Regions from separate parts of the Homo sapiens genome. Here region 2 is linked to region 1. The links come from fine-mapping of genetic effects on gene expression. A gene starts in region 1. The other region holds a variant in brackets. All regions are shown on one strand. Distances are from middle to middle. Region 1 holds the start of NGLY1 (N-glycanase 1). Region 2 has its middle 360 kb from the start of LINC00692.

Evidence for each region. PIP is the estimated chance that this variant, and not a neighbour inherited with it, causes the effect.
Region 2: its variant is fine-mapped to the expression of NGLY1 in sun-exposed skin (GTEx, PIP 0.98).

What each region holds. Positions count from the first base shown.
Region 1 is chr3:25,778,897-25,790,732 of GRCh38, forward strand. NGLY1 (N-glycanase 1) reads right to left here and starts at 4,547. Exons shown (of 12, transcript NM_018297.4): 1 at 4,364-4,547. The coding sequence starts at 4,494. OXSM (3-oxoacyl-ACP synthase, mitochondrial) reads left to right here and starts at 11,194. Exons shown (of 3, transcript NM_017897.3): 1 at 11,194-11,251. RefSeq lists enhancers at 2,340-2,509, 3,897-3,976, 4,137-4,186, 10,673-11,202, 11,342-11,411 and 1 more and silencers at 4,497-4,736, 11,020-11,239.
Region 2 is chr3:26,227,822-26,239,657 of GRCh38, forward strand. No RefSeq gene overlaps it. Among named protein-coding and RNA genes, the nearest start is that of LINC00692, 360 kb to the left of the region's middle. The variant G/A (reference allele first, on the strand shown) is at 6,507.

The DNA of each region.
Region 1 (11,836 bases):
GGGGTCTCGCTTCAGTTTAAGATACATTCTTTTTTTTTTTTTTTTTTTTTTTTTTTGAGAGAGGGGTCTTGCTCTGTTTCCCAAGCTGGAGTGCAGTGGCGTGACCTCGGCTCACTACAGCCTCCACCTCCCAGGTTCAAGCAATTCTCCCACCTCAGCCTCCCAAGTAGCTAGGATTACAGGGGTGCACCACCACTCCTGGCTAATTTTGCATTTTTTAAGTAGAGACAGGGTTTCACCATGTCGACCAGGCTGGTCTCGAACTCTCGACCTCAGGTGATCCACCCGCCTCAGCCTCCCAAAGTGCTGGGGATTACAGGCGTGAGCCACCGCACCTGGCCCAAGACATATTCTTGACACAGACAGTATGGCAATAAAAGGAAGACATAAATTTCTTTTACCATAATTAAGATTTTGAATAGTACACTTGGGACAAGTAACCAGCACATGAAAAGTTTTGGTTTGAGATTTTTAATTACTTTGATAAATCAGAATTGTTTAAAAAAAATTAAAAGAATGTAAGGTTAAGCTAATCATAGTATTATATTCAAAAGACCCTCAGAACATAGTTTAGGATGATAAGTTTCATACCTGACACCAACTGCCTTAAAGTGATAGTGACTTCTTTAAGTACTATGTTAAGGAGGATTCTGAGGCAGTATCTGGGATCCATAGGAAGATGTACTTCCATAAGAAGCCACCTGCCCTGGGGTATGATATGGTGAGTAGGCAAATGCTAGCAAATGACTTATCAACTTTGTCCTATCTACACATGTTCTCTAGGTATTCTGACGTAAAAACAAAACCAAAAACCAAATATTTTAATTTTATAAGTTTTAACAAATTTTGCATTTGTTTTTCACCAGTCAATTGCCTATTGGCCAAAGTGTCATAAATACTAAATGAATGTTTTTAAACTTTTCCCTAATTTCAAAAATCATGTTTATTACAGAATATTCAGAGACAAATGCTCTATTTTTTTTGCTATTCAAAATGTCCACAGATTGGTGCTAATCTACAAATTATTTGTTACCCATACACAAGTAGTACAGAAATTTTTTCTTTGTTTGTTTACAAGTGCATAAAAATGAAGCAAGAAGTAGAGAAATTGAATGTTCGGTATACAGCAATTTGATATTGCCATGAAATTTTCAGTGTATTTTACAAAAGTTATAGGTCCATAAGGGATTGGAAATTAAAACAAAAACATTGTTCTTTACTATATGTAATTTGAGAATCACAGATGGTTGTGAAATACAAAGAAAATTTTATTCTCAACTCTTTATTCTGTGTATTAGATTAGGGTTTCTCAGTCTCAGCACCATTAACATGTGGGGCCTTTTCTCAGTGGAGTTTCCTTGTGCACTGCAGAACATTCGCATTCCTGGCTTCCATGCTACACTGTCTCACAAGTGAGCCTCTCTTTCTTATCACTTAAGAAAACTGAACTATAAAATAATCCTACATTTATCAAAGCTAGTTTTCGATAAATGGGGCATCTTTTCCTGACACTCAATGTATTTCACAGGGTGATAAACATGTCAGTACCACCAGGATGATATATCCTACTGGTTCAAAACTGCTTGAGCTATTTTAATCTATTCTTTTCCTCACAGCTTTCAGATCTCTACATGCTGGGTCTTTCTCTGGGCTAATTTTCTAGTTTCTTCCTGCTTTCACAATTGTTTAAAAATTCTTATAAAATACACATCAGTTCTCATATAGTTTTTGTTTTGTTTTTTAAAAAACAAAGTGTTGCTCTGTCACCCCGGCTAGAGTGCAATGACGCCATCAAAGCTCATTGCTGCTTAGAACTCCTGGGCTCAACAATCCTCTGCCTCAGCCTCTGAAGTAGCTAGGACTACAGGTGAGCCACCACGCCTGGCTATTTTTTTTTTTTATTAAGAGATGGGGTCTCACTGTGTTGCCCCGGCTGCAATCCTTCTACCTGGGGTGTCCTAAAGCCCTGGTACTACAGGTTGGAGCCACTTCGACTGGCCTTTGTTATTTTGATATATGTTGTTACCATTTAACTATTGATATACAATATAGATTTTCCTCTTTAGTTTCTAGTGAGCATTTTTTTTTTCTTTTTTGAGAAAGGTCTCACTTCGCCATCAAAGCTAGAATGCAGTGGCATGATTATGGGCTCAAGCCATCCTCCCACCTCTGCCCTCCAAGTAGCTGGGACTACAGGTGTCTGCCACCACGCTTGGCTAATTTTTTAATTTTTTTGTAGAGACGGGGTTTAGCCATGTTGCCCAGGCTGGTCTCAAACTCCTAAGCTCAAGCAATCCGCCCACCTTGGCCTCCCACAGTGCTGGGGTTACAGGTGTGAGCCACCGTGCCCAGTGAGCAATTTTATTTTTATATCATCTCTGGACCTCACATTAATCTATTTTTCTCAGTAAAAGTATACTGCAAACAGGCTCCAGCAATGACAGTCACATCCAGTTCCTCAAATTCTTTTTCTTATTAAGTATGTTGAGTAAACTGACCGTGGTTTTGTGTATAGACTGATACCAAAGGCCTGACCCTAAAGCCCTCAAAGACTTAGAGGGCTGTAGGGACATTAGACTTCAAACCCATCATATCCTCTTTCCTATCCTTGGAAAAGCAACGCACAAAGACTTTCTTAAACTCTTAATTTCTCAGCATTATTCCAGTGTGTCCACTATCCTTTGCGCTCATTGTCACACCCCTCATCTTTCAGAATCTTGAAGCTGTGAGGCGGAGGTTGCAGTGAGTCAAGATCGCGCCACTGCACTCCAGCCTCATCAACAAGAGCAAACTCCGTCTCAAAAACGAAAATCAGCAACGAGCCATTAGTAAACATTCATAATGAAGATTATGATGCTAAATGTCATTATTTGCATGCAAAGGTTTCCCCCTCATACTAAACCTCAGCATTTTGGGTTTCACTAGATTTAAAGCAGAAGTGAGGCTTCATTACAAGGCCACCTCTCTTTTCTGACTAGTGGGGTTTTAAATAGCCTGGTGGCTTTCCAGGTGGTAAGTCTCAGCTAATGGGCTCTGGAGAACCCAGCCTATCAGTTCATTTATGGAGTCCCTTGGCATCCTTGTACTGTGAAGAGCTGTAAGGCCTCAAAGAGTAAAAAAGGTGAGTTGAGAAGGTGTCACAGAGCACGAAGGTGGTCCCCACACAGGTCACAATTATGTAGCTGTGAACAGGCCACATGTTGCATCTTTCATAGCATCTGCCACAAAATAAGGGCTCAATATATTTTCCCTTCAATTTACTTTAAAAATCATTACCATTGCCTAAATGAAATATTACTGACATGGATTTTAAAAACTGCACATGTAACTAATGTCTAAAATTGGGTCACGTGAAACCTATAACCTTGAAACTGAGAATTTCCTTTTAGACTTCATGACAATATACCAAACACTTAATGCACCAGGGGCTGAGGGGAACAGAGAACCTAATTAATCACGGTGACCTGATAAATGAGGTAACACCCCTAAAGCAAGTGGCTCTCCTTTAACCTCAGTTCCATTTCCCTACCCCCCCACACCATGTCCCTTCAGATCATTTGATCTGAAGAGTTGAGGTGGGTACTTATTCAAAATGAATAATCAAACTTGCCTCCCAATTCCCAAAATCTGCAAGGTCCCTTAGACCTCTAGAAGTGCAATTTTGCTGACAGGAGAATGAAGGAAATTACTCTCATCCAAGGCGATTACCTCCACGAATTCTTAAAGGGTTATGTTACATAGTAGAATCCAGGTATTAATATAAAAACTGTAACTTCAAAATACTATAATGTTTCAATCAACAAAAGTGGGCAGAAAAAAAATTAAAAATTTTAAAACCCACCACTTCAGAAGCATTATGCTTTAGTACTCGGATAGTCTCAACATGGGAAGAAAACATCACTTTGTCAGTGAGTAACTTCTGATAAGTATGTGGAAATGTAAGCCACTCCGCTCGAAAAATGCACGCAGGGGGAATGACACGCGCGGTGCGGTTACCGTTGTGTCCCGATATCTGAGGCCGTTAAACGACGAGAAGAGCGGCAGTGTCTGAAGCACGCCTTCCTACCTCTCCTCCGCCCGGCCCCGCTTCCGGGACTCCAGTTCACCCGCAGCACCCTGACTGCAGGTGCCAAGTCACAACTGCAAAGAAACTTCCTTTTCTCGAGCGGGGGTGGGACTTGGCCGGGTCCCGAGGCCCCTGGCCGGCGGGCTCGGACGTTAGGAGCAGAACCAGCTCCAGGTCCCGGTCTGTCCGGGCGTCGCTGCCCTCTGAAGCTCAGGCCGGACGCCCCAGTCCCTGGCCGAACAAGGTGCCGCGGCCCACCCACCCCGGTACCCGCCGTCCGACCCCGTTGCCCTGCACCTGAGGATGTTGTCAGCATAGGTGAGCAGCAGCTTGGAGGCCTCCAAAAAGGTCTCCGGGGTGTTCTGGCAGAGCTCAGCCACGGCCGGGGACGCCGAGCCTGAGGAGCTGCCCAATGCCGCCGCCGCCATGCTTGAGCGCCAGCGGGCGCCGCCGCCGCCCCTCGCTCTCCGCGTCCCACACTGAGCAGGCGCCTCAGCGCGCAGCAGCTACCGCAGCCACCGGCAGGGGCGGGGTCCTCGGCCGGCAGGGGCGGGGTCCTCGGCCGGCAGGGGCGGGGTCCTCGGCCGGCAGGGGCGGGGTCCTCGGCCGGCAGGGGCGGGGTCTTCGGCCGGCAGGGGCGGGGTCGGGGGCCTGGGGCGGGGTCGGGGACCGGGGCCAGGAGCGGGGGAGCTCGGCTGGGAGCTACGGCTGCCCCTTCGCGGGGGGCAAGGGGCTGTTCGGAAGAAGGTGGGGGGCCTCGGCCGGCAGGGGCGAGGTGCTTCGACCCAGAGTTGGGGCCTGGTCGTACAGGTTGGGAAGGGGTTCCGCAGGGAGAGGCGGGGCCTGGGCTCCGGGGCTGAGGGGTGTGGGCCTGGAGGAGGGGGATGTCGAGTCCTTTAGGACGGAGGAGCTCGGCTGGAGGGGAGGCCGGCTTTGGTCTAGAGGTATCGGGCGAATGGTGCTGGCACGTGCCTCTCAGAAACCCGGATCCCTTTGCGCTCCGGGGCCAGCCTAATTGATCCAGCTATTAAGGTGGAGAAACCGCATGTACCTCCCTCCTTTCCCCACAAATAAAACCACCTTAGAGCCTTCTCTTCGCAGATTGTCAGGACGTTCTACATAGATGTGGATGAAAGACTACAGAAGGAAGGAGCAACAAACGTCAAAAACAAAACCATGGCTATAAACTCTGCTGGGTTTGTTATATGGATTCTTTTCAGAATTTGGCTAATGACTGAAAATCTAAGTTCCAGCTCAACTAGTATATGATTCCTCTGTAAGGAAGTGTATTTTTAAACCATAGGTTGCGACATAATAATGGGTTGTGGATTCGGTTTACCGCGTGGTGACCAGCGTAAAACACATGCATAATAATTACGCAATATTATAGAATGTCGGGGGCGGGAAGGGAATAAAAATTTGCATCCCACACAGTAAGGGTAAGTAATATTTTGTGACTTGTTTTTTAGGTAGATCATGTGATCAAGGTCTTTTATTCCTCTTAGAAGATGCATCCCTTACTACTTTAATCCAGTCTCTTCCCCACCATGTTCTTGAAAGTGTACTTTACCAGTGGCTTCCTTCTTTGCAGAAATTCCTTTTCAACCTCACGAAGTATTTTTCTTGACTTTATTTCTTAAGATAAGTGATTTGCCTGAATAACCTCTTTTAAATTTCTTGATGTTTCATCTGTTTACTTTTAAGAATTGAAATTTTCTTCCAGAATCTCCGAACAAGACCCTAAGCTATGACATCCAGTTCAATGACTATTCGTCTCCCAAATATACGTACGCTTTTAATAAATATGTAAATCTTTGGACCACCTTCCAAGTATGGTGTGTTCAACAGATAGTAGTATGTTACTACCGTCTGTAACTAAAATTTTCAGGGGCTTAACACAAGAGTAATTTCTTTCTGGCTCATATAACACTTTAATAATGCAGGTGTCATAATGTCAGTGGACCCAGTCTCCTTCCATACCTTAGAACAGGGGTCAAGAAACATTTTCTGTAAAGGGCCACATAGTGTTTTAGGCTTTGTGAGCCATAAGGTCTGTCTCAACTATTTAACTCTGCCTCTGCAGCTGTTGCTCCACAGACAATACTTGAAAATAAATGGGCATGGTTATGTTCTAGTGAAATTTTATTTACAAATCCAGGCAGCCTGCTTGGACAAAAAAAAAAAAAAAAAAAAAAAAGTCACACCTACTTTTAACCACATGAGCCCAGAAATGACACACAGCATTTTCTCTACCATATCATTACTAAGAATGAGGCCTCATCAAGATAAAAGGGGGTATTTCAGTAAGGCCAGATTTACAAAAAATAAAAAAAAAATTTAAAAACACATAAAAAGATAAAAGGGGAGAGTCTGGGAAATGTAGTCTCGTCCAACTACACAATGGATTGGGGGCTTGGGTCTGGAGATATAGCTATCACAAACTTTATTCCTCTTAATTTGGGTTTCTTTTTCCATTGATACATTTATTTATCCTTTACTAATTATATGAGAATAGTATATATTATACAGTACTTGTAACTTTTAAAAATGCAACAGAACTTTTTTTTTTTTTTCAAATAAAATTTTAGGGGCTGGACATGGTGGCTCACGCCTGTAATCCCAATACTTTGGGAGGCCGAGGTAGGTGGATCGCTTGAGCCCAGGAGTTCAAGACCAGCCTGGGCAACATGGCAAGACCCCATCTCTACAAAAAAAAAACAAAAACAAAAACATAGGAAGATTGTCTATATACAAAACACCAAAGTGGAAATGCTCTGGTATTGAAGCAGAGGTGTCAAGTGAAGGGCAGAAAGCTGTCAGCTAAGGCTTTCCCCTGACAGATAGAATGGTCATAGGGTACTTTTGTGGGGGAACAAAATGACTTTTGTTTTTCTCTTCATAATAGTTTGTTTCCTCAACTAAAACGCTATCTCACTGTAAGTTATCATTAGTTTTGTCTTCCCTATTTGATTAAAAGTCTCTTGTGCCATCTGTCTCAGACTGCTTTGCACACAGCAGGTACTGAATAGAGTTGTTGGTTAATCACTCAATGTAGTCACACAATAGTGAATCACTATACAAATTCCTGAAAGACTTCAACTCCTCCCCTTGCTAATGGTTTTTATGGAGGTTAACTTTTTAATATCACCAAACCAATCGTGGGGAAAATTTACAGAGTTCTTTCTTTTTTGTTTTATTAAAGAATAGTGTTAGCCAGGCGTGTTAGTGCACACCTGGAGTCCCAGCTACTTGGGAGGCTGAGAGGCAGGAGAATCGCTTGAACCCAGGAGGCAGAGGTTGCAGTGAGCTGAGGTTGCCCTACTGCACTCCAGCCTGGGTGACAGAGCGGGACTCTACCTCAAAAAAAAAAAAGAATAGCGCCATGATATGTCAACTCTAAAAATGATGTTTTTAATAAAGGTGAAATCCTGGGGAAAAAAAAAATCTTTATTTTGGAACAAAAATAAATAAATAAAAGAACAAGAATTTCAATGCTGATTTAGTACCCATTCTTTGGTTGTTTGAAACAACGATGGGTATAAAAGTTAGGGTAGCTTATTCAGCTTTTCTAAAGGAAATGGAAGAATTAGAATATCTCCAACTTGACTGAAGTGGGGGAAGCAGCCAGGAAAATGAGAGACCAAGTCCCTTTATATAATGGATTCCCTTAATAGCTTTATAAATGGCAATATTCAAAAGAGATTACAGTTACTCAAGAACTTTAACAGAAGTGTTGCTAAAGAGTTATTTGGAAGGACTTAAATTTCAGATGATTTTTTTAAAATGGTGATTTCCATGATTTTATGGACTGTACATTGTTATCACAATATTAATGCTATGGCATTGGTTTTCGCAAAAGTCATTTGGTGAGAAATGCACAAAAAGTGCATGTGTACTATCAAATGTAAGGATAAATGTTGATTTATTCATTCCATAATTCATTCATTCATCATGTATTTATGAAGTGACTACTAGTTGCTCAGCACTGTGAAGGAGACAAGTATGGTCCCTACTTTCATAGAAGTCATAAGTTTAGAGCAGTGGTTGGACAAGCAACAGCAGCATCAGCAGGAAACTTGTCAGAAAAACAAATTCTGAAGCTCCACATTTAAAGGTGGGACCCAGCAATCTGTGTGGTAACAAGCCCTTCAGGTGATTTTGATTAACAGTAAACTTTGAGAACTACTAGTTTAGAGGGAGGAAAATTTCACTGTGGGCTGCAGTTTCAGTGAGGGGGGACAACTTGAACAGAAGCCTTAAATTGAGAGGTTGAGAAGGTGAGAAAGGAGAGGACTTGCTACCTGTGAGAGACTCCCCACCCTCCTTAAATCATGTACAATATCCTAGTAACGTTTCCTTCTCAACATCTCCTGGATCTCTCCTTGCCATTGCCTTCAGAGCCTCGTGTTTCATCCATTCTTAACTTTCTTCCCTGTGTCCATTTCCACATCCTTCCAACCCACCCTGCTCATTTGTGCAATAGTGATCTTTCTAAAGCACCCATCTGATCATGTTGTTCTCCTGGTAAAAAGTTTTCTATGGCTCCCTCTATCCACATTCTAAAGTCAAATGGTGTCAGGAACCAGGCTGGTAAGTTAAATATTTTAAGTGGCTTTGTTCAAGACAAAGAGGAGTAAGAGAGACTCCAGTGAAGGGAATGAGAGAGTTTACCATGTCCTTTCTAGAGGAGTTTAGAATCAATAAAAGAATGTTGCACTCCAAATTATACCATGAAGGCTAGCATATGGTCTCTGAACTACGGGATTAAATCCAAAGTCCTCAGTATGATACCCCAGGCTTTTGTGATCTGGGCCCTGCCTTACTCTCATGCGTTTACTGTTGCTTTGTCCCACACTTCAAATTTGACATGGGCCACATATTTAGCTGTTTGTGGAAGATACCATGACACTTCATTTCTCCAGGCCTTTGTTCTCCTCCTGCCAGGATGCCCTTTCCCACCCAATTTACTAGACAAACATTCATTTCCAAGATGCAGTTCAAGGATCATTTCTCTGAAGCCTTTTCTGACTTTACGAGGTAGCACAGACCTCATTGTCCCTTTTGTGTTATAATAATTCCACTATAGCACCTGTTTCAACAGTTTGCACTTACTTGTTTCTATGGGTGTCTCCCTTTACTAGACCATAAACTTCTTGAAAGCAAGAGCCATACCTCTACTCATTTTTGCATTCAAACTTCAAGCATTGATAGGAAGAAAATGAGTGGTTGTTGAAAATAGCAAAAGCACAGAGATGAGAAAAGTTAGGGTCAATCAAGACATGTATAGTGAGAAAATCAGTTTGCTGGGTGGCAAGCTCATTTAATAGAGAATGGGAGCCATAATTGGAAAGATAGTTTTGAATCAGATTACAAAGAATTTAAGGCAAACCTAGGAAGTCTTAATAGGAGGGTAGGATAAGCAGAGCCCATTTGAAGATTTTGGTGCAAGAAGACACGATGGAATTGTAGCAGGAAATATGGTACCAAATATGTAAAGCCATTAAATATCATAAAATTTCCCACCCTTTTCCAGATCAAAGAAAAGGTGATAAGAGGTAGATACAAAAATGATGGTCTTTTTATTTTTCTGAAAGATTTTGTCACCTCTTAGCCAAGACGATTTTGTGATATTACAAAAGAAATAGCACATTAAAACTGTATGTTTCTTATGAGTTCAGCTTCAGAGAAAATATTGTAGGTATTTTCACACTATTATTTTAAAGACAGCAATGAAAAGAGATCAAGTTTAGGTACTTACTCATCAAGTGTTACTTTATAACCACATGTGTTTGTTTTAATTCTTCAAGAAACTCTACTTTGTCACTGAATGAGGATCAACTAGAGGTGACTGGTTAGGCCTGGGACGAAGGTCAAACTGAGCTTTGCTGAATTATTTTAAACAAAATAGATTTCCAAACTCATTTAAATCCAGGACCAACCTGGAAAGCTAAGCTTGACTCACATTCTTCTGTAGGGGTAGGAAAGAATGCAGAGCACTCTACTTGGAAACAATGGCTTCAAGAGGCATTGCCCAGAAAAAACCATAAATATGACTAGAAGGTCCAGATGAAGATTCTATGCTCAACCATTTTTCTAAAGAAGAGCAAGGACAAAACTCACGCCTGGGATAGCATGTGAAAAACAGATGTTCGATGAATACCATCTTGTCGACTTCTTGCTTTTTTACATTTTCATGTTATATTTTCCCTTTATCGGTTTGCAGTCAGCTCTAAGCAAACAGTTAATGAATTTTTCACACTTAGAAACAAATGTCTCCATTGTGACAATGGAGACAATTTTTGAGCACTGTCTCAAATCTGGTGATAATTTTTTTTTAAGTGAAAGGAAGTTTATTAGGAAAGTAAAGGAACAAAGAATGACTACTCCATAGGCAGAACAGCCTGGTGACAACTTTTAAAAAGTAAAAACTTTATTACAAAAACATTTGTTTATTGTAGAAAAGCTTTATTAAATAAAGCTAAGCAAAAATAAGGAGGGAAAGATCACAATCAGTATACATCTTGCAGACCTTTAAAGAATTATTTTTGAAAAAACGGATATATACTGTTTTGTAACTATGTCTCCTAACAAATAGTCGCAACATCTCATTAATAAATATTCACCTGCAGAATTATTTTAAACGGCTGCATGGCATTTGGATGTACCACAAGATACACAACAAATTTCCTGATGTTGGCCATTTTGGTTAATTCCACTTTACTCACAATTACTAATAACGTTGCGAGCTATAGCAATAACTTTGAAACTGCAGAGAATTTCCTTAATTCTTTCTTACAATTCCAGTAGAATACGATGGTGTCCCTTCTCCGACAAAAGGGAATATTTGGGCATTATCACTGCCAAAGAAAAATGCCTTTTTGATGGGTGAAAATGCTACCTCATCGCGTTATTGGCAGGTCCTCGATTATCGGCGAGTCACTGAGGTTCCGAGAGGGGCGTCTCTGCTCACGCAAACAGCTACCCAGCCGCCTCCCACGGTCTGACCTCAGCCAAGGTGACGCGGCTTAAAGTCAACCGGCGGAAAGAGAGTCGAACGGGACGCGTGCGTGGGAAAGCGCATGAGCGTACGTGCGAGCGCGCATGAGCGTACGTGCGTGTGCGCGTGCGCTCGAGAGCGTCATCGCCCCCGACTGTGGAGAAGTGTCCGGGGTAGCCCCGTTACAGGTATCGCTGGCTACCCTCCTCCTTCGCCCCTCCTTTCCTCCTTTACATTCAAATCAAGTCGGGGTTGAATTTCGAGAGGGGAGTCCGAGGACCTGGGGCCTGATTTCTTTTTCTCTCGCCATGCTTCTTCGGGCTGTGTACATGTGTGGTGGTGCCTGAGAGGCGATACAGGGAATGGCTACACTCTTTTACTCCCGCCCCTGGCCTTCGTAGTACCCTTGAAGTGATCCACTAGTCGTAACCCCTCCTTCCACCAATGATTCAATTGGAGAAGTTTAGAGGAGTGGAAAGACTTGTCCCCTTCCCCCATCGCAAGCTTGGTCACAGAGTGTATTGCCAACCCATGTATCCAGACGCTCAGTCTAGGGCTCTTGGCCCTGGGTAGCGTTTTGAAAAGGCTGGTTATCCTTAAGTACTGAAGATTGATAAAGCCCACTTACTTACTTAAAAGAATATGCCCTGAAATGTGTTTTCTGTGCCACTGACACCAGAAATGCTATTTAGAAGAAGTTATCAGTAATCCTGACAAAGGATGCTTCCTGCAGCTCAAATCAGGCTGGAGGTGCCTTTATATTTTTCATTGAA
Region 2 (11,836 bases), 450 kb after region 1:
CCCAATGATTAGCCTCCTCCACATTTTAGAAAAGTTATTACATAAGATGGATTGTTCCATACTAAGAACTAATATGGGGGTGTAGAAATTTTAAGATTTTTGCACTTCGTAGAAAATCACTAACAACTGAAATGACATGACAGATGATCCTGGCTGCTTGAGAGTGTTGAAGTACCCCAAAGAGGTTGAAGCAAGGAAATTGAAGAAAGAATTCCTTTATTTGAGGGAAGGTGGATTAAATCAGAAGGTCCTACACTTGGTTGCTTACTTGAATCACTAGGGAGTTATTTTTTAAAAATACTAATGTCAGAAATCCAACCCAGAGATTCTAATTCAGTAGATGTGAAGCAAGGCCCAAAAGTCTAGATTTTAAAACAGAAAGTTCCTCAGATGACTCAGATGTGCAGTCCAATTTAAGAACCACCAAGGCCTTAAAGCTCTCTCCAGCATTCAACTTCAAGCTGCTGGGGGACAACAAAGAGCCATGGAGGATCTTCTTGACAGCACCCTGAGCTGGCTCTGTGGTTCTCCATGCACCACGGAGTTCTCCATGCACTACGAACTTGCACTTATTCTTTATCTCATTACATTTTGCACAGTGCCTGTCAAAGTCAGGAGCCTCTGTGAGTTGTTTACATGGATTATTTAAAGTAATCGTCATAACAAACAAGCCTTGCTTGTATAATCATTTTGTGTTTGTGGAAACTGAGGTTCAGAGATATTAGAAAATGACTTAGTAGTAGAATTGGGATTCAGGTCCAGATTGTCTGATGGCAAAGTTGGTTCTCTCCATTGATGAGTTCTCCTTCCTTCCACTATGCTATTCTGAAAACGAAAATGTGTTAATGCTTCAGAAACATAAAGGAACATACCCTGGAAAAGGTAGGAAAATGACAAATGTGACAGATACTTCTTGCTTTTCCCTCCTTACCACCTCCTTCCTCAGACTCTTCAGTTCTACGGGTCCTTCATTCTCCCTTCTTCCGACACATTAGTGAAGCATATGTTACTTTTACTCTTAAAATAGAATGCCTTTATTTCTTAAGCTGCCAAAACATTTCTGGATCTTTGATTTTTTTTTTCCCAAATGAACACTAACAATATTTTTATGGTCTACTGAGGATTTTATTTATACAGAATATATCTGAATGGGTTGGAAAGAAAGAAGCTGTTTCAAGAAAAAGCTCAGTAGGAGTGACCACCATGGCTTTGTCCTCACAAGCATCCTGTCTCAGGCACAATCCATAGACTGGCTGTGACAAGAATGCAGGTAGGAATACATAGAAAAAACCCCCAGCCAACTACCACCATAATGTGAATATTATTTCTAAAACTTACCCTATAAATTAAGCACAGTGTGCTTGGCTACAAATCCTATCTCTGAGCTTTAGACTATACATGATCTTCATCATCAAGCATTTGCTCAGAGAATCATGTGTGTTTTTTTTTGCAATAATAACACCGTATGTATGTATATGTGTATGTATGTATCCCTCTCTCTCTCTCTCTGAACTTGACTTGTCTCATTAAACATGCGAGTTGGGATTCTAATTTTCCCAAGCACAACTGCTAGAGAAGTAAATAGTTTAAAAGTATTTATAATCAACATGCTTTTAAATAAGTTTTATAAACACGGAGGGAAAACAGCTCAATATTTTTCAGCTCTCAGCCATTCCATTACAGTCTCCACAGAACAGGTTTCATACAGCTGATGACCTTTAAACACAAATCACACAAGTTCAAATAGCTCTTTTATTACTAGCACAAATTTAATGTATTTTTTAAAAGGACCTCTTTTAAAAAATAGTAAATTTAAATATAATGTGCAGGCAGGCTGCTCAGTTGTGTCTGGCCTTTTTTGTAAATATGATGTATGGAGTTCCAATGTAAACACTGTGCCCCAGGTGAAAAGTTCTGCCTTGTGGAATGGCAGGTCTTCAGACAGAGGTAGATAGATGGGTTTTACTGAGCTGTTTGAAAAGAAAGATGAAAGGTGAGGGCCAACTGTCAAGCTGGTGCAGCCTTGCCAGAGCTTTTTAATAAGACATTATTAGGCTGTAGGAGTCTTTTCAGGCTTTCAATCCTGTTCACACTTAACTGATTGCACTCCTTCTTCACAGCTGCTTCTCACATAACATCTTCAAGCACTTACTGCAGCCAGAGTGAGGTTTGAATTTCAGCCAAGCATTGGATTTCCATTAAATTAAACAAGGAGAAAAAGTTAGAAGAGGAGAGGTATATGTGATGGCGATTGGGCATACTGTCTGGTTTTCATGTTCTTTGAGAAATCGTGTTTCACTTAACAAACATCTGTGGAGCTCTGAGTTGGGGAGGAGCATGGTGCATCCAGAGGCTTGGGAGACCCATCTTAGGGCTGCTGCAAAACAGGGGGCAGGCAGGACTCATTCCTTCTCTGGGCATAGGTTTCTTTATCTGGATATTCAGGTGCTGAATAGATAAGTTTTCTGACTGCTTTGGGCTCCATGATTCCAGAGCAGGAATTAGTAGATTTTCTCTTTAAAAGGCAAGCTGGTAAATATTTTAGGCTTTGTGGGCCAAGAGGCAAAATCAAAGATCTTGTACAGGTATTTATATAACAAGAGAGGAAAGAAATATCCATAAATTTTTTTGAAATAATTCAGTATATTAATAATAATTGAGTCCATTGTTTTTTGTAATGCAGATATTCTATCAAGGAGAAGGACTTTATGTTATTGCTGTTGTTGGGAGGTAGATAACATCTTGCTTAACTGGAACTCAAAGATAGTGTTTCCCATCATCAGATTGATTGCAAATGTTTATCTGTACAAACTATTTTTAGCTGTCAGGCTATTAAAACACCAGGGGTGAGACCAATGTGGCCCATGGGATGTAGTATGCCAACCACTGCCTAATGGTGCAGGCTCTTTAAGAGGGTAACACAAGAACTGAGTTAGAAGTAGAGAGCTAAAAAAGGAAAGGTGTCTCAGACAGACGGGAAAGCATGAACAAAAGCATGAAAACAGTTCATGATAAATAGCAAAGTTATAGGGCAGTGGAAACTCAGAAGAAGGTGAGGGGATTGGTTCTAGGTGAACAATTCTTCAGGCAAATGTCACACAAGCAGAATGCATTCTTAATTCATAGGTGACCAATTAAAAATTATTTTTACCTAATCTGACTCAAATTTTCCACCTTTGTCACATTCTCTCTATGATCATTTCTATGATTATTTTATTGTCAGTCATTATTCATGACAATTCAATTTTTTAGTTGATTTCTGTAGCTTATAAAATTCTACATAACCTGCTATCAAAATTTAGTCATGAGTTGTAATAGATGATATAAGCAAGCAACTTTGGGGGCTCAAGGCATTGCTGAGTTCTGATTGGATGAAGTAACTGGTCTTATGATTTGTTTAAATGTCAGTCAGTCAGCCAAGGATGTACATTTGGAAGATTTGGATATTGCCTCTGCAGTACAGTCATGTTATATGCTTTATAGATTTTACATAGTATACAATAGTTTTACATTTTTGTAAGTAAATATGTACGATGTCATGAATTATGTTGTTGATACAAAAATTAAATCTTCTTTCCAAAATACCCAGAAAATGAATACCCATTTTGTTGTATAATTTATGCAAACTTTGCCTGTGGGACCGAAGCCAGAATGTTCCATGTTCCTTTTTTGGCTAAGCAAATGTTGGGTGGTCCAGAGAGGCATCTATCCCATAGCTCTTTGTAATGTCTATCATAGCCTGGGTTCTTGGAAAGTAGAGTCTGAGGAAAGGGTGAAAAGCTGAGGCTTTATATGGGAGATGTAGTCTAGAGCAGGAGAGTGAGGAAAAGAGAAAAGAAAGATGTGAAGTGACATGAAATGCTGCATTGCTGTGCTCACCATTGCTTTATAATCAACATCGGGAGACATTCTGGTTTGCTTGGCTAATGTATTTACTGAATCTAAAGGATGTCTCCAGCCTGGTTGGAGAAACTCCAGCTCAGAGAAGTCCATGAGAGCAATAAAGGAGGTGAAATTTATTTGCCCAGCCCTCTCCCCAGCTTCATTTTCTCATTGGTCCAAATACATCTCATGGAACATAACTCTCCCCCACTTTCTGCTTTACATCATGTGGCCTTTTTAGTGGCAACCTGGGATGCCACACCTTCTTACTTGCAGCGTGGTATTTCATACAACTCCAGAAGAGGTGAGAGAATGAGAAACTCCAGGCATATGGCTGCTTGAGCCAGAGGCATGGCAATAGCCCAGGGTGAAGCTTAACATTCCCAGAGCAACAGGACAGCCAATGGAGTGTATGGCTTCTACAAGATCTTTTAGTCAGATGTCAGGTTAGCCTTAGAGGACCACTGCTTCTAGGGAGAGGTCAATAAGCTCAAGGTGGGATTCAACTGAACCTAAAATGTTAGGTGAAATTCAGATTTCTAGAGAAGTAGAGTGTGCCCTTCCTTATGAAGCAGTTAATAATAACTAGATACAGAGATAAAAACCTGAGGACAAATGCTGGGGACTATGAGTAAGCTGTTCTTGCTGTAGTGATCTTAGACTTGTTTCTTTGTGTTGTCTGTTGGTTGCCTACCCACCTTTCCTCCCACCCTCATCTTCCTCTAATGAAACAACTACAGTTTCACACAATGTCTTGCCTTTTCCATGTGCACACATGCTTCAGGGAAAGCTATCCTCACCTCAGACTTGGAGATTGAATCTTGATTACTCAAAACCAATCTAGAAGATCCCATGTCATTTGCTGTGACTGGCTGAGAGATGGGCATGTGACTCAATTATGTTCAATGAACATAAATCTGCTAAAGGGTTCTGGGTGAGTTCCCTTGATCATTAGAAAGAGATTTGGATATATATGTTGTCAAGTCTGGATATGGTATCTAGATTAGCTATAGCCATCCTAAGGCACTGAGGGAAGCCAGAGTTGGGGGAAAAGTAAGGCAGCAGAGATGATAACAGAGAGTGAAGTGAAGAACTTTCATCTTCAATCAGATTTTGTCCATTATGTTAACGAATATCTCCTTTTCCCTATACAATGCTTGTTGACATTCCTCGGATCAATGAAAAGTCCTTTATACTACCATGACAGGAGTTTTGACTTTTTCTGACCATACGTGAGTATATTGTAGACAAGATGTTAACTTTTTCTGGTTTTGACTACACTCAATAACCAGTAAATAACTATCCCATCATGACATTCTATGTTTCTGTGGGGTTTTAATTGAACTGTAATAAAGGCACGTGTTCAACTTCCCATATTTATGTATCAGAAATTTTGCCATAGATGAAGATTAATAGTCAATGTATGGATAGTACCTCTTGGAGTATTTCTGCTCATATGATCAGCCTCATTTTTAAAAGCAGAGAGCTTTTTTGAGTGCTAATATCCTAGAGTTAGCAATTAGTTATCTTCTCCCATCCAAATTTAATTTTAAGACTTGTACCAGGATATGTTTACATGGCCTGAATAATTTACATGCAACACACTCAGCTAGTGTTAGATTGAGCAGTATCAATGTTTGAGATGCCCATGAATTTATCAGCCTTGCTGGAATTACTCCATCCATATTGGATGTGACTTCATGGTAAAACTCCATAAACTGATTCCTCAGCCTGAACTTTGTCTAGCTCATCTTTTTTAAGATAGCCTCTGAGAATACTCTATAATCATTCTCTCTTACAGTCTCTACTCCAGTGGAAGAACCCTAATTGGCTAGCTTACCCACTCATCTCACCACGTGGACTAGTTTACATAGGCCAGAATGGTGTGGCTAGTCACATGGAGAGCATGGTATATGTCAGAAAATGTTTGTTGTGAATGATAATAAGCCGCCCAGCAACATACATTTAAACAACACCTCTGTGTCTTCTCCTACTTCTTCTTCTTTAACTTTGTCTTCCTCTTCTTTGTCGTTGTTGTCATCATCGTTGTTGTCATCTTCCTCTTCTTCTTTTTTTTTTTTTTTTTGACAAGATCTCACTCTGTCACTGAGGCTGGAGTGCTGTGACATGATCTCAGCTCACTGAAGCCTTGACCTTCTGGGCTCAAGTGATCCTCCTACCTCAGCCTCCCCAGTAGCTGGGACATGCATGCCACCATGACTGGCTAATTTTTGTATTTTTTATAGAGACAAAATTTTGCCATGTTGCTCAAGCTGGTCTTGAACTCCTGAGCTCAAGCAATCCACCTGCCTCAGCCTCCCAAGTGCTGGGATTACAGGCATGAACCACCATGCCTGGCTTATTTTCTTCTTATTACAAAAAAGTAGGACATTGTCATTGCAGGTCTTTTAGGCAAACAAAATCTAACCATTTTAAATATTTGGTTATATAACTGTTAAACTTTTTCTTTTTTCTTTCCTTGTTTCCTTCTTTCCTTCCTTCCTTCCTTCCTTCCTTCCTTCCTTCCTTCCTTCCTTCCTTCCTTCCTTTCTTTCTTTCTTTTTCTTTCTTTGCATATACACAACATACACATAAAGAGTCTTATGTAAGAATGAGGAAATTGG[G/A]TTAAAATACTTATGCTATCTGGTATCCTTTTATTTTTTCTTTTCACATGTGGATTTCTTTCCACATATGTTTGCTTTCAAAGGTTGCTTGGTGCTTTATCATCTGTAAGCATCATAATTTATTTAATCTATTTCTTATTTTCCTGTTGATGGAGATTAATATTATTTTCTACTTTTCTGTACAGCAAACAATATTGAAATGAAAATACTGATACACATATTTCACATTGTCCCATGACCATCTGCCTGGCAACTCTAAGAGAATCAATTTAAAAACTGTTAGAAAAAATAAAAATGCTAAGCAAGGTGGTCAGTTACAAAATGAGTATATCAAAATCAATAGCTTTCCTAATATACCAATAGGAGTTGGTTAGAAATTTTAATGAAAAAGGAGATCTCATTCACAATAGTAACAAAAGAACAAAATACCTAGGAATAATTAATAAAAAGTGTCTAAGACCTATGTGAGTAGAATTATAACATTTTATAAGGAAAATACATGGGGAAATAGAAATAATTGTTCATGTATTGGAAGAATCGGTAAGAATGCAAATGCTTCTTAAATTAATCTATTCTATCAACCCAGTCCCCATGGAAGTTTCAATTGGATATTTATGAAAAAGAGAGCAAGAGGGGACTGAAAAAACATACCTGCCTCTATTCCCACTTCAAATTCCTAGAAATAATACAAGCATAGATTTTAAAACTAAAATCTGTAACAATGCTGAAAAACCAGAACAGATCCTGTAGATGGATGGATGTATGTTATAAGAAATCCCTGAAGTAATTAGTTCAGATTGGATTGGAATAGCAAACCGACTGTCTAAAACATGAACAGCGTAGTTTTTCTACACAAAATAGGAGCAGTGTCAGGGAGGTTCAAAATCAGGAGTTGCCAACAGAGGAGAAAGAGGCTCTGGAACAATTCTCAGAATGACTGTGTGAGGTTCTACAGAAGGAGAAGCTGTGAGAACCAGCAATATTTGCTCCTCTCAATTGTGCCAAGCGACAGACAGCAGAAATGTTTCCCCCTGCAGAGACAATGAATGAGACTCGGGCCTCAGAGAAAGGACAGTGCCCCAGGTTGTTGATATCATATGCCAGGGAGGGTCCTAATACTAATAAGATAGGCCTGTCTTACGAAGCAGCATGTTCTCTCCCTATAATGAATAGTGACAAATACAGTTGTCCCTTACTATCCACTGGGGGATTGGTTCTAGGATTCCTATGGATACCAAAATCCATATATGTTCAACTCTCTTATGTAAAATAGCATATTTGCATATAACCTACATATATCCTCCAGTACAAGTTGAATAGTTTCTAGATTACTTACAAATAATAAAATGTAAATGCTATGTAAATAGTTATTATACTGTATTATTTTTTATTTGTATTATTTATCTAGAATATTTTCCATCTGTAATGGTTCAGTCTACAGATGTGGAACCCATAGATATGAAGGGTCAACTGTATAGTATTCTCAGATAGGCTAATAGAGAATCTCAAAATAAAAGATACACACTACCAAGAGTCATTAAGTTGTTGGAAAAACTAACATTATGAAAAAAGCCATCAGAATCAACAAATAGAAAAATGACCAGCAAAGGTCAGAATTAATAAAGCAAACAGAAAAGGAATGCAAATATGTTTTAGAATCTTCTCATAAGACTCAATTTAACTGCACCTTATTCATTTTAGTATGTGCATAGTGTTCTAGGATGTGTCATATAGTGTTTAACCCTTACCTTGTTGAAGGACATTTAAGCACTTTCCAATTTTGCCTTATTATATGCAATGTGCAAAGATGACCCATGTACAAGCCTCTTTGAACATGTATGTGAATATAACTGATATCTTCAGAGGAATGTGATAAGATACTGCAACCATTAAAAAAGTAAACTAGCCGAATATATTTCTTAAAGAGAAGGTATATCAACTATTCTATGATAAAATATATTTTGGATGGCATTCTTTAAACTTTGATGATTTATTACATACTAATCCCACCAAACAGTGGCCTAATCAAGTAACTTTAGGAGATATTTGCAAATATATTTTTTTCTTGGAGGAATAAACATTATTCAAAGTTAGATATTCTTTGTTAAAATCTTATTTTGATAAAGGCAAGTGTCTTATTACACATGCCTCAAAAATGTTAAAGCTATGAGTATTACAGCTATATTCCATGAAGTATTCAACGTGGAACAGAATTTGGGGTCTCATTCACCGAGCCACCCAGGACATAGAATTTATTCAAAACCATTTTCTGAGGAAAAGCTTGACTGGATCTGCCTATGGGTTAATGGGAAAAGGAAATCCTGTAAGTTACACAATTCTCCCTGAGCAGTTGAATTGCTTCCTTTCTTCCGAACATTGTGAATTGTGTAGCTGACCTGGTTTTCTTTTTCCCATTGGCTACCTGCCACATTTTGGGTCATAAGTTCACACTATGATGTGCATTGTAAACTTCATTCCTGTTCTCTATTTATGTCCTTAATGTGATTTTCTTTTTAGTACTTCTTTTGCTTCACTTTTAATTTTTGCTATTTCTTGTATTTTAATGTCTCCTTATAAACTGTTTTAAATTATTTCTGAAATAAAGTGTTATAAAGATATATAGATGAGTGGTGGCTAAATAAAAAATAATATACATACAACATGCAGGCCAGAAGTTATACTTCCTAATGAGTATAACACCTTAAAAATATTTTATCTTAAGAGACCATAAACATATTGTAATTGATGTTGTCACTAACAAAAACATCTTTGAAACTTCTTTTTTAGGTTTTCCTCCTCAGCTTTTGGCACAGTGTGTAAATGTCTGTAAGATTTATGGGTCATGATTATAAGACTTTGTGGGTCACTGTGGTTTCTAGAAAAAAATCCCCAAGTGTTTCATGGTAAAGCCTGCTAACCTAAATGGCTCAGTGAGCTGGGTAATCAATCAAGTTGACTTTTCTTCTCCAAATATACAGTATACGTACATAAAGTGATATGACATTTTTAAAAATGTTCTTAAAAAACTGGCATTGAAAGTGTTTCCCAAGGTACAGCTCAGAGGAGTTTGCATGCCTGTTGGCATTGTTAGGCGAAGGGCGTGCCCTTTGAGGAAGTCCATTAATTTGGATGTATTTGTTCTGATGTGTTTTTTTCAAAAGCATCTCACCACCCCCACCCTACCCCCACAACCAAGAGAAAAAGAGAAGGTTTGGTGAAGTATTAGTCATGGTAATTAACACATCACAAGAAAAGTACATACGGACTCCCACTCATTTTTAGGAAATAGAGAAAATTGCTTGGGATCCTAGGCACTTCCCATCATTCTATAATTCACCTACAATAGAGCACAGATGTGCTTTTTGTATATTCTGAGAGTATAGGGCTTCGTACCTATATTTTTATAGGTATGAAGTGGTATACCACTGTTTTATAATAGTGGTATTATGCAGTTATTTCTGGTTGGAAAACCTGAAACCATTTTGCCCCGGTGAATGACGATTTTTGAAAATCTGCTCATGATCTAGTCTTTTAACTGCAGCCCAGCATGTCTCTTTCACTGAATGTTTTATGTTTAATACAACTGCTACAGCACCATGACATCATAGAATGTTATTACTTGAAAAGGCCTTAGAGGTTATCCAGGCTGTTGGACTACAGGTAGGTATAGAACTATGTGGCACAAGGGTTCAATGCTTTGAATTGAATTCATATGCCAGTGTTGAAGTTGCTTTAACAACTACAAAACAAGCTAAAAATAATTAATACTGAGAAAGATTACTTAAGACAAGAGGATTCCAACTTTATCATAGGCAAGTTTAGGGGGCCAGTGGAAGAAGAGATACAGATTGCCAGGACCCAAGACAATGGCAAAAGTAACAAGATAATCTGTGCAATGTGGCTTGTGTCCCCACCCAAATCTCATCTCGAATTGTAATCCCCATATATCCAGGGAGGAACTTGGTGAGAGGTGATTGACTCATGGGGGCGGTCTCCCCCATGTTGTTCTCATAATAGTGAGTGAGTTCTCATGAGTTCTGATGGTTTAAAAGTGTTTGGCAGTTCACCACCTGAATGTCTCTCTCTCTCCTGTCACCATGTAAGTTGTGACTTGCTTCCCCTTTGCCTTCCATCATGATTGTAAGTTTCTGGAGGCCTCCTCAGTCATGTGGAACTGTGAGTCAATTAAACCTGTTTTGTTTATATGTTACCCAGTTTTAGTAAGTGCTTTATAGCAGCATGAAAACAGACTAATATGTGGCCCAAGATGATTTCTATGTCTAGGTTGAAGGATAAGAAGATAGATAATTAAACAGTGAAATTCAGATATGATCATGCAGCAGTTCTTGTGAAGAATATGGTCAAACATTAAAGCAGGGAATAATGATTCTTTTCTATGCAGATAGATTGCTGAGTTGCATGTAGAGTTTCTCCTGACCAGGTTGATTTGGAGTTGCCAAAAGAAGTGCTCAGCACTTATTTAAATTAGATTAAGTAGGATTAAGAGTTGTCCTGTGGCACCAACCAACATCACAGCCTCTTGACACTGGACTGTAGGATATATCAGAAAGAAAGAAGTGGTCTAGTTGGCAGGATCATCTAACTCACTAATTTTACAGTTGAGAAAACCAAGAATAAAGAGATGACTAATAAAAATGAATCAAATTGTTGGGGCAAAGCTAAAACCATTAGCTGGGTCTTCTTCTACTCCTATTTCTTCTTCTTTTTTTTTAAATTTTTTTTTCTTAAATTTTATTTTATTATTATTATACTTTAAGTTCTAGGGTACATGTGCACAATGTGCAGGTTAGTTACGTATGTATACATGTGCCATGCTGCTGTGCTGCACCCATTAACTCGTCATTTAGCATTAAGTATATCTCCTAAAGCTATCCCTTCCCCCTCCCCCAACCCCACAACAGTCCCCTGAGTGTGATGTTCCCCTTCCTGTATCCATGTGTTCTCATTGTTCAATTCCCACCTATGAGTGAGAACATGCGGTGTTTGGTTTTTTGTCCTTGCGATAGTTTACTGAGAATGATGATTTCCAATTTCACCCATGTCCCTACAAAGGACATGAACTCATCATTTTTTATGGCTGCATAGTATTCCATGGTGTATATGTGCCCCATTTTCTTAATCCAGTCTATCATTGTTGGACATTTGGGTTGGTTCCAAGTCTTTGCTATTGTGAATAGTGCCACAATAAACATATGTGTGCATGTGTCTTTATAGCAGCATGATTTATAGTCCTTTGGGTATATACCCAGTAATGGGATGGCTGGGTCAAATCGTATTTCTAGTTCTAGGCCCCTGAGGAATCGCCACAC